Homo sapiens: one gene and its partners. The protein of the gene in region 3 interacts with the protein of the main gene of each other region in a pairwise test. Each region holds a gene or a part of one and is shown on either strand. Other genes may lie near its edges. The genes, in order: TTC3, TNIK and HARS1.

Region 1 (3,653 bases), on a different chromosome or scaffold from region 3:
TGCAACCTCTGCCTCCTGAGTTCAAGCGATTCTCCTGCCTCAGCCTCCTGAGTAGCTGGGATTACAGCCGTGCGCCACCATGCTTGGCTGATTTTTTTGTATTTTTAGTAGAGACGGAGTTTCACCATGTTGGCCAGGCTCTTCACAAACTCCTGACCTCAAGTGGTCTGCCCACCTCGGCCTCCCAAAGTGCTAGGATTACAGGTGTGAGCCACCGCTCGTGGTATGGCATTAATTCTCTTTTTAATCTCTGTTTTATTTGTATATGTGTTCCCCTTTTCTCATGTTGAATATTATTTATGTCTGACTTCTCTTTCTTGATCAGTCTTAGTAAAAGTTTGTCCATTTTTAAAATCTTGGCAAAGGATTAACTTTTGGCCTAATTTGTTCTATTATTTGTTTTTTATTTCATTGATCTTTTTTCTCTTTTATTATTTCATTTTACTTTCAGTTTATTATTTTACTATTTTTTTCACTTAAATTACACACTTAATATTAATTTTCAACCATTCCGATTTCCTAGTATAAGCATGCAAGACTGTAAACTTCCTCAAAGTTCATTTTTGCTTATCTAACATAGTTTAATTTATAGTGTTTTCATTAACTTTCAAATCTAAGTATTTTTACAATTTCTATTTTGATTTTTTCTTTGACTTATGAGTTACTTAGACATTTTTAAATTTTCAAATGTGTCTATATTGTTTTCCTTTAATTATCGATTTCTTACTTGTGTTGCCAGAGAATATTTTATCTTTTTAGCATTTTTTTTTTTTTGCCCTTGCTTTATGGCCTTGTACATAGTGAATTATTAGAACTGTTCTGTGTACACTTGTGAAGAGTATATATTCTGTAATTGTTAAGTGTCTATTAGGTAAAGCTTGTTATTTGTGTTGTTCTGATAGTCTTTATCCTTATTAATTTTGGTTTATCCTATCATTAACTGAGAGAAGTGTGTTGCAATATTCCACCATTACTAGTTTCTAACAGATTTCCTGTAGTTCTAACAATTTTTGTTCTTCTGTATTTTGAGACTTTTATTAGCTACATGCAAGCTTAACATTTTTTTCCTAGTGGCTCGAACCTTTACTATATTGTGATCTTCTCTAAGTTTGCTTCTTTGTCTTAGAGGCTTTTTGTCTGATCCCGTCTTTCTTTTGGTGCTAATTTACCTGGAATATTCTTTTCTTTCATTTTACTTTGATTTTTTTTAGTGTCCTTACATTTTAAGTGTCTCTTATAAGGGACATACTACTGGATTTTTCTTTTAATCTCACCAGACAACTTCTGTCTTTTAATTGGTTATGTTCCAGGTGTCTTGGTTGGTGTTTGACTCAGTTTTAGATATTAAAAAAAATCTAAAAGTATTTTTATTTTACCTTTGTTCTTGACAGATCATTTTGATGGATGTACAATTGTAGGTTGGTGTTTCTTTTCTGTCAGTAGGGTAGGAATACTATTCTGCTGTTGCTTATACAAAGTGTGCTGCCAGTTTTATTTATGCCTTTTTTTTTTTTTTTTTTTTTTTTTTTGAGGTGGAGTCTTGCTGTGTTGTTAGGCTGGAGTGCAGTGGCGCCATCTTGGCTCATTGCAACCTCCGCCTCCTGGATTCAAGCGATTCTCCTGCCTCAGACTCCCAAGTAGCTGGGACTACAGGCACCTGCCACCATGCCTGGCCAATTTTTGTATTTTTAGTAGAGATGGGGTTTCACCATGTTGGCCAGGATGGTCTTGATCTCTTGACCTCGTGATCTGTCCGCCTCAGCCTCCCAAAGTGCTGGGATTACAGGCGTGAGCCACTGCACCCAGCCTATTTATGCGTTTTTTGAAGAAAATATCATTTTTCTTTTAGTTACATTGGATTTTCTGTCTTTTGTGTTACATCATTTCACTTCTAAGTCTAGATAGAGATTATATTTATCCTATTTTGGATGCATGTGTTTCATGATTCTGCATTTTGTCTTTCATGAGATCTAGAAGTTTCTGAGCCCTGTATTCTTTAAATATTATGTCTCATTAGTCTCTTCTCTCCTGCTGGAACTTTAACTGGATATATATATACACTAAACTGTTTCCAGATCACTTATTCTTTATCTTTCATATTTTTTATCTCTTTGTTTCTCTTTACCAGAATTTACAGTGCTGGATAATTTCATAAGGCATATATTTTAGTTCACCAATTTTCTCTTCAACTGTGCCTAATATCCTCTGTAACCCATCCTGTCTCTTTTTTTTCTTTTAACAATTGCATTTTTAATTACTTTTTTTTTTTTTTTTTAAGATGGAGTCTCTCTCTGTCGCCCAGGCTGGAGTGCAGAGGCGCGATCTCAGCTCACTGCAAGCTCCGCCTCCCGGGTTCACGCCATTCTCCTGCCTCAGCCTCCCGAGTAGCTGGGACTACAGGCGCCCGCCACCACGCCCGGCTAATTTTTTTGTATTTTTAGTAGAGACGGGGTTTCACCGTGTTACCCAGGATGGTCTCGATCTCCTGACCTCGTCATCTGCTCACGTTGGCCTCCCAGAGTGCTGGGATTACAGGCATGAGCCACCATGCCCGGCCGCATTTTTAATTTCTAAAAGTTCTGCCTGGTTCTTTTTTGATATGTCCAGTCATTCTTCATGTTCTCATGTTATATGCTGATTTTTGTGACTCTATAGCTATTCTGTAGACTATATCAGACATTCCCAATGTCTGATATCCTTGAGGAGGGGGATGTCTAAATTTATTGCTTTTTTGTTTTTTTTTCTGTTGTCTCTCCTCAATGTAGCTGTCACCTCATGTGTTTGGTGATCATTGATTATGAACTTCTGTTTGATCTTTGTGGTGATCTTGAGAGTCTAATTTGAGGATGCTTGCTTTCTGAAAGCATTTCTATCAGCTTTGTCTGGGAGCCAGAAAGTTTAGCTGGCATCACTTTTGAGTTCCTACATTTTGCTTCTGGCCCAGGGCTCAGTGTCCTGATCCTATTACTGCTCTTGGCACCACTACTTGTAGCACTAAACTGTAGCCAGGTTTAATTTCTAGCTCAAGGTTTGTTGCTTTTGCGTGGAGAGGGTGCCTTCACATGTTCCCCTATTTCTATGAGCTCAGCAAAAACATCCAAAAAGTGTTTTTTTTTTTAATCTAGGATATACCTTTTTCCTCCCAACAGTACATTCCCCCAGAGTGTATAGTTGACCATAACTGATGGGATCAGAAGCTCTTTATTTTAATATTTAATTTTAGTAGTATATTTTTGTTTGATTGTATTATAAAAAATTTTATGGTACCAAGCAAGCTTTCTTGGTGATACCAACATTTCCATTAAAACTAGTTTACATCTAAGTTAAGATTTGAGTTATCCTAAAGAAAAGTATTAAGTAAATAGCAGTACAGATGGCAAATGGATTGCACAATATATCCTCTGGATCCATAGTGACCCTGCAGAGATAAACCTGTGATGGTCAAACAATGTGAAAACTGCTGTCAGAGACATGGGCAGGGTGCTCTTGTTTACAGAGAAGAGGTGCAAAAATCAACTTGATGGTAGTGGGAAGATCAGGAAATGCTTCCTGAAATTGAGTATTAAGAACTAATAGACATTAGGTGGTTGCAGAATAAGTTTTGTTTAGGAAGGACAAGCAGTTGGGTATGACTGGCTTCTAGGTTGTGTGTT
Region 2 (3,653 bases), on a different chromosome or scaffold from region 3:
TTTCTTCACAGTGGAGCACAGGCTATCTTCAGTGTGTTCCGTACATACAAGCAACTTTATAACCATCTTTGTATCCATACTTTGTTAGACTGGTTTTTGTGTTGTGGGAATGACTGATTCACTAAGATGTCCAGGATGTTGGCAATCCAGTTGAGGGACGTGGTATAACGGGACCCAGCACTGCATTCGAATTTCATCCTTGGACAAGACAAGTAACTTCTCTGACCCCAAATTTCTACCTACAAAAGAGGTAAATTGGATCACCAATCACCAAGCCCTAGGCAGACAGATAGATAAGTAGATATATAGACAAAGATATGCAAACACAATCCCCCTTTACTTTTCATTTTAGCCTTAACATGGTTTTATGGCTTTATCCTATTTATGCCTTTTATCAGAAGGTGCCACAACTTACTTTTTGGAGGTATGAGGTGTAATAAATAAATAAGATCCCTTTTAAATGAATGAATTAATTGCATTCACACAATTGATATTTATTCAATCAACATTTATCATGTGCCAGACACAGTTCAAAGCACCAGGAATGTGGTGCTGAACATGCAGGCAAGATCCCTATTCTCACAAAACTTATTAGGCTCCAGTTGGGACAGCCAGATTTTTAAAAAATTCAGATAGTCACGACTGCCTTAAAGATAATAAAGCACTGAATTGGACAGTTTCAGGGTGGAAGGGAGTGTTACTTTACAGATATATTGCAAAGAAAGCCTCTCTGTTTAGTAGGGAGCCTCTAAGAGGGCCCTCAGTGACTTCTGCCTTCTGGTGTTAGTTAATATTCTTGTGTAGTCCCCTTCGAAATGAATAGGGCTGACTTGGGTAGCCAACAGGGTATTGCAGAAATGATGGTGTGTGATTTCCAAGGCTAGGTCATAAAAGACATAGTGGCTTCTGCTCTGCTTTCTTGATTCCTCTATCTGGTAAAAGTGGGCACGATGTTATGAGGATGCTCAAGCAACCAATGGAGCCACCTACGTGGGGAGGAACTGAGGCCTCCTGCCAACATCCAGCACCACATAAGTAAATCATCTTGGAAAGAGATCCTCCAGCTCCAGTCAAGCCTTCAGAAGATAGCTCACCTTGCCAAAATCTTCCTGCAACCTCAGGAGATACCTCATGCTAAAACCACCCAGGTAAGCCACTTCTGAATTCCTGGCCCACAGAAACTGTGAGATATAATAAATGGTTATTGTTGTTTAGGCCACTAAGCTTGAGGGTAGTCTGCTATGCAGATACATAAGTAATAATACAGGCAGCATCTCACCTTAGACCTAAATAATAAGATGGAGCCCTCCATGTGAAATTTCTGACACGGAGAACTACAAGAATGAGCTTGGCATATTCACAAAACAGAAAAAAATCAGTGTGGCTAGAGTGTAGTAAAAGACAAGTGCAGGCTCTCTTCTCCATCCAACCATGGGTGTAGAAACCATGCCAATGTTGTCTTCAGCTCAGCCCCAGCAACTAGTAGCACCCAATAATCAGGTACTGAATGAATATATACACAAACAAATAAATGAATGAATGCTGGATACCATGTGCATTTCTTCCCCTACAGTTAATCACATTTCACAGAATCACAGAATACTGGGCCTGAATTTACCCTGCACCCAAACTTGCACCTTCTAATACACTAATCAAACAAATGTTTGTAACATATGCAATGTATTGTTAAAGTCTACAAATTTCCTACTTGATGCATACTGCCAAGGTTCTAATTTCACTAACTAGAGAGACAGCACTTTAAAATCTAGGGTTACTTCAGAGTCTAAATCCGGGTATCCAGCAGCAACACTGTAAGGGAGTACCCAGCGGAAGTCACAGTCAGCCCTTCGTCCTATCACTCGGTCTTCAAAAACTAGAACAACACTTTAAATTATAAATCAGAATCTGACAGCTGGAAAAAAATAGCTCATTTAAAAATTAGAAAGGGATGTTACGTTCAGTGGCAATTCCCAGCTCATTGAGGTGCACAGTTTGCAATCTCTTGGTATCTCCAACAGATAGAATAAGAATCCATGGCTATTTAAATGCCCTCAGTCCTGCCTCTAGTTCCCTTACATATTCCAGGAATATGCATCCCAGCAATACAAATTGCTGGAAGTCACCTCCAGCAATTTCTAGTCCAAACCACTCATCTTACATGTGACAAAACTGAAGCTTAGAGGGCAAGGTGTCAGAGCCAGCTTTATGACGCTGGGCTCTAACTCCCAGCTGTGTGCCTCATTAAACCTCACCATCTCCCAAACTCTCTCTACCCGCTCACTGCCAGCTCTGTCAAGATAAAAACTCAACGTTGTCTTCCAGTGGGCCACCCCAGAAGCACACCCTTTCCCGCCCATCTATTACTGTTTAATCAAAACAGCAGTCATAAGTATTATCCGATTGTTGAAATAATTGAAACACACTCCAAACACACACACACACACACACACACACACACACACACACACACATACGCCTTGCAATTCTAACCCATGGTATTTTAAATCTCTCAAAACTTAGAATAAGACAATGGAGAGAACACTTTCCTTGGCAGAAAAATTCTAGAAATAGGAATACCTACCCAGGACCAGGCATAGTATTTCTCGTAATTGGTGCCCCCGGAATTGTACTCTATGTAATTAGCATCCACTGGAATTGTACTCTACATAAAAAGTGTCCCCAGGAGTCATGCAACCTAGACTATAATGTAATTCATGATCCCTGAAATTGTGCCATGGTCAGCAACAGGCCCCACCTTTCTGAGGTTTCTATACTCTCTCTACATAGCACCACCTCCAGCCCTTCTAAAAGGGTTGCACAGTATATATTTTGTTAATTCAAAATTTATTTGTTGAACGAACGCCTGCTGTGTAAAGAAAACTGGTGAGGATCCCTAAGAAAATCAAACGTTGCCTCTAAAAAGGAATTGTCTAGTAGTGAATATAATCCAAGACAGAAAGTTCTGAGTGTTATGAAAGAGGTGTGAGGTCAGTTCTGAGACAGTCTATGAGTGGGAGGGACAACTTGAGAGAAATCAGAGACTTCTGTGGAAAAGGTGGTCTGCGAATGTTCAGCGTTGGGGCAGTAGGTACAGAAAGGAGACTAAGACAGAGCGCCCCCTACAGAGCATCCATGGGGGAATGAAATTGTTCCCTGCCGCAATGGGGGAGTGGTCGTCAAAACTGCAGAGCTCGGTGGGAGGCCCCTCTGAATTGCCGCTGGTCTTAACATGCTAAAGAGTTTAGTTTTCAGTCTGTAGACTAAGGAGACAGAGAAGGCCTTGAATAAAAACAACCAGATTGAAACTGTGCGTTTGGAAGACTCACGTGGCTACAGTGTACGAGAAACCAGTCAGAAGAAGGCTGGTGGTAGAGACACAGGAGGAGGGGAGGTCCTGTTGCGGGTGTTGCCCAGGGGACAGTAACTACAGCACTTGCAGGGAACAGTGGAGACAAGGGGACCCATATGATAAACATTAAGGGAAGAATTTTAAGTTGGGGTGATATAAAATGTGTTTTGAGAAACTGAGGGCACCCCCATGAGACAACCAGGACATGTAAAAAAGAGTGGATAGAATCATGTTTCTCTAAAGGGAAATAAGCTTCCAACCAGACTGGAAGGAATCACAAGCGGAATTCATCCAACATTTTCTA
Region 3 (3,653 bases):
ATGATTAAGCTAACATGAGGTCTCCAAGTTGGGCTCTGATCCAATATGTTGTTGTAAGAAGAGAAAATTTAGATAGGGACAGAGGGAAGACGATGTAAAGACAAAGGGAGGCTGGGCGCGGTGGCTCATGCCTGTAATTCCAGCACTTTGGGAGGCTGGGGTGGGCGAATCACTGGAGGCCAGGAATTCAAGACCACCAACCTGGTCAACATGGTGAAACCTCGTCTCTACTAAAAATAGAAAAATTAGCCAGGTGTGGTGGCACACGTGTTGTAATCCCAGCTACTTAGGAGACTGAGGCAGGAGAATCGCTTGAACCTGGGAGGTGGAGTTGCAGTGAGATGAGATGGTGCCACTGCACTCCAGCCCAGGCAACAGAGCGAGACTCTGTCTCAATTAAAAAAAAAACAAAGGGAGATGATGGCCATCTACAAGCCATGGAGAGAGGCCTGGAACAGATCCTTCCTTATGGCCTTCAGAAAGAACTAGGCCTGCCAACATGTTATGTCAACTTCCAGCCTCTGGAACTGTGAGAAAATAAATTTCTGTTGTTTAGACTACCTAGTCTATGGTACTTTGTTATGGTAGCCCTAGCAAACTAATACAGTAGGTAAAAACAGTCTCATAAATATGTACAATTAAATATCAATAAAAAGAGACATTGATGAAGGAAACAACAGATAATTTCAGACAGTTTTATAGCCTAAAGGCAATAAACTAGCTCATTGTGATAAGAGAGAGAACAGCTACTTTAAAGAAGGTAGTTGGAGAAGATTACTTGAGGAGTGGCATTTTAGCTGAGCTCTGAAATTAAAATCTGGCTGGCTGGACGTGGTGGCTCATGCCTGTAATGTCAGCACTTTGGGAGGCTGAGGAAGGAGGACCACTTGAGGCCAGGGGTTCGTTCGCAAGCAGCCTGGGCAACATAGCAAGACCTCTGTCTCTATTTGTATTTTTTTTTTTTAAAAAGGAATTAAAATCTGCAGTCTCTAGTATAATCTGAAATAAATCATGCAAAGAGCTAAGGAAAGGGAGTTCAGGAAAGGGGAAGAGCAAGAACAAAGGTGTGGAGGTACAAACACACTGACTATGTTCCAAGAGTAGGAAGAAGACCAGAGTAGCATAGTGGGCAAGAGGAAAAATAGCATGAGATGAGGTAGGAGAGGCAGTGGCCAGATCACCTAGGGCTCTGTAAACCTGAGTAAAGAGTTTGGGTTGTACTATAAGTGCAGTGGGAATCACTGGGTTTGAAGCAGGTAGTAATGCAATCTGGGTTGGCTGGTTTGTTTTAGAGACAGGGGCTTGCTACATTGCCCAGACTGGAGTATGGTGGCTATTCACAGGCACCATCATAGCACACTACAGCCTTGAACTCCTCGGATCCAGTGATCTTTCTGCTTCAGCCTCCTGAGAAGCAGGAACTACAGATGTGCCCAGTTGCAATCTAGTTTTTAATAGCAAAGAACTACTAACAACTTCAGAGTCCATCAATAGGAGAGTGGTTGCATATTTATGTACGTATGGTTTGCATGAATCTAGAAAACATTCCAAGTACAGATGCCACGCAATACAATGTAGAGAGGACCCAGAACAATTACCATTCCAAAGAATGGCTCTCTTTTGGAATCTGCTGGCCACAACCAAGATAATAAAAGACAGGGCCTCTCCCTCCAAGCCATTCTTGTCCCCCTTCTTATTGGAGCAAAGACTGGTCTGTGTCCACAACAGGAGTGGGCCCTTTGGACCCTCACTCTCTTGTTGTCATCTTCTTTGTTATTCAAATGCCCACTCATCTACCATGTAGTTTCTTCTTGCCCATTCCTCACCTTTAGTTCAAATACAGGTGTATCAATGACTTCTGCACCGTGGCGCTTGAAGCAACGGATGATTACGTCAAACACCTTCTCGCGAACTGCCATCTGCCGGGGACTATAGTCTCTTGTGCCCTTGGAGTTGAAATCAGCCAGAGAACCAGAAATGAGGTTTGAAAACCAAGAACAATATGTTTTGGAAATATAAAAGGATGACCTCAATAATGAAAAAGCAAATCCTGCTCTAAACAGATTTTCCTACAGGCCACTGAGTTTTAAAACAAGTACAAATAATTCCCTATTAATTCCCACACCCATTTGCTATCTGCCTTCCAAACTCCATTCCCTTTTAAGTTTGGGTCTATTTTCTAAAATTCTTAGAACTCTTTTCTTTAAGCCATTTTTCTAAACACTCTCTCTCAGATAACAGAACATTTCCTGGCCTAATAACAAACACCTACCTGAGGCCAGGCACAGTGGCTCACGCCTGTAATCCCAGCACTTCGGGAGGCCAAGGCAGATGGATTGCCTGAGGTCAGGGGTTCGAGACCAGCCTGGCCAACATGGTGAAACCTCGTCTCTACTAAAAATACAGAAATTAGCCGGGTGCGACGACACGCCCCTTGTAGTCCCAGCTACTTGGGAGGCTGATGCATGAGGATCCTTGAACCTGGGAGGTGGAGGTTGCAGTGAGCCGAGATTGTGCCACTGCACTCCAGCCTGGGCAACAGAGTGAGACTGTCTCAATAAAACAAACAAATGGTGGTGGCAGGTGCCTGTAATCCCAGCTACTCAGGAGGCTCAAGGCAGGGAGAATCACTTGAACCTGGGAGGCGGAGGTTGCAGTGAGCCAAGATTGCACCACTGCACTCCAGACTGAGAGACAGAGCGAGACTCTGTCTCAAAAACAAAACAAACCAACCAGCCGGGCGCGGTGGCTCACACCTGTAATGCCAGCACTTGGGGAGGCCGAGGCGGGCGGATCACGAAGTCAGGAGATCAAGACCATCCTGGCGAACACTGTGAAACCCCGTCTCTACTAAAAATACAAAAAAATTAGCCGGGCGTGGTGGCAGGTGCCTGTAGTCCCAGCTACTTGGGAGGCTGAGGCAGGAGAATGGCGTGAACCCGGCAGGTGGAGCTTGCAGTGAGCTGAGATAGTGCCACTGCACTCCAGCCTGGGAGACAGAGCAAGACTCTGTCAAAACAAAAACAAAAACAAAAACAAACCCAACCAAACAAACAAAAATAATAACAACAAAAAAATACCTACATGATTATAGGCAATATAACCAACTCAAACTGGCTCAACTAATTGAATTCCAAATTTTATAAGCAACGTTTCTCTCCCAATATAACTTTTCTTTTAAATCTTAGTTACAACTGTTTGTTCTCTAATTTGTTTCTGGTAACAACTCTATGACATAGGCTAGGCAGATAAATTTTACAGATGAAGTACAGGATGTTGAGAAGTTAAGTCATTTCTTAAGGCCATTCAGCATGTTCGTGGCAGTCAGGACTAGAACTGTGTTGTCCTTCCAGGTCAGAGCTTCCAATCTGGGCTTTTATACCCTACTCCAAAGTCTTTGGTTTCAGGACCTCTTTACACTCTTACTATGTATTCAAGACCCCAAAGTGGATTATACCTATCAATATTTACTGTATTAGAATTAGAACGGCAAAAATTTTAAAATATTTATTCATTTAACAAATAACATATGTTAACACAAATAATATATCTATTATATGTTAACGCAAATAATATTTTAGAAAAAGGTAACTGTTTTCCAAAACAATTTAGTGAGAAGAGTGGCACTGATTTACATCTTTGCAAATCTTTAA

The links.
Region 1: the proteins of HARS1 (region 3) and TTC3 interact in a two-hybrid assay, tested with the Homo sapiens proteins (one large-scale study listed by BioGRID and IntAct).
Region 2: the proteins of HARS1 (region 3) and TNIK interact in a two-hybrid assay, tested with the Homo sapiens proteins (2 studies listed by BioGRID and IntAct).

The regions. Positions count from the first base shown.
Region 1 is NC_000021.9:37,079,608-37,083,260, forward strand, and holds part of TTC3 (E3 ubiquitin-protein ligase TTC3), read left to right. Parts: intron 1-3,339; exon of another isoform or gene 3,340-3,653. UniProt on the Homo sapiens protein: E3 ubiquitin-protein ligase which catalyzes the formation of 'Lys-48'-polyubiquitin chains. Mediates the ubiquitination and subsequent degradation of phosphorylated Akt (AKT1, AKT2 and AKT3) in the nucleus.
Region 2 is NC_000003.12:171,450,302-171,453,954, forward strand, and holds part of TNIK (TRAF2 and NCK-interacting protein kinase), read right to left. Parts: intron 240-3,653; exon of another isoform or gene 1-239. UniProt on the Homo sapiens protein: Serine/threonine kinase that acts as an essential activator of the Wnt signaling pathway. Recruited to promoters of Wnt target genes and required to activate their expression. May act by phosphorylating TCF4/TCF7L2.
Region 3 is NC_000005.10:140,681,274-140,684,926, forward strand, and holds part of HARS1 (histidine--tRNA ligase, cytoplasmic), read right to left. Parts: intron 1,947-3,653; coding exon 1,827-1,946; intron 1-1,826. UniProt on the Homo sapiens protein: Catalyzes the ATP-dependent ligation of histidine to the 3'-end of its cognate tRNA, via the formation of an aminoacyl-adenylate intermediate (His-AMP). Plays a role in axon guidance.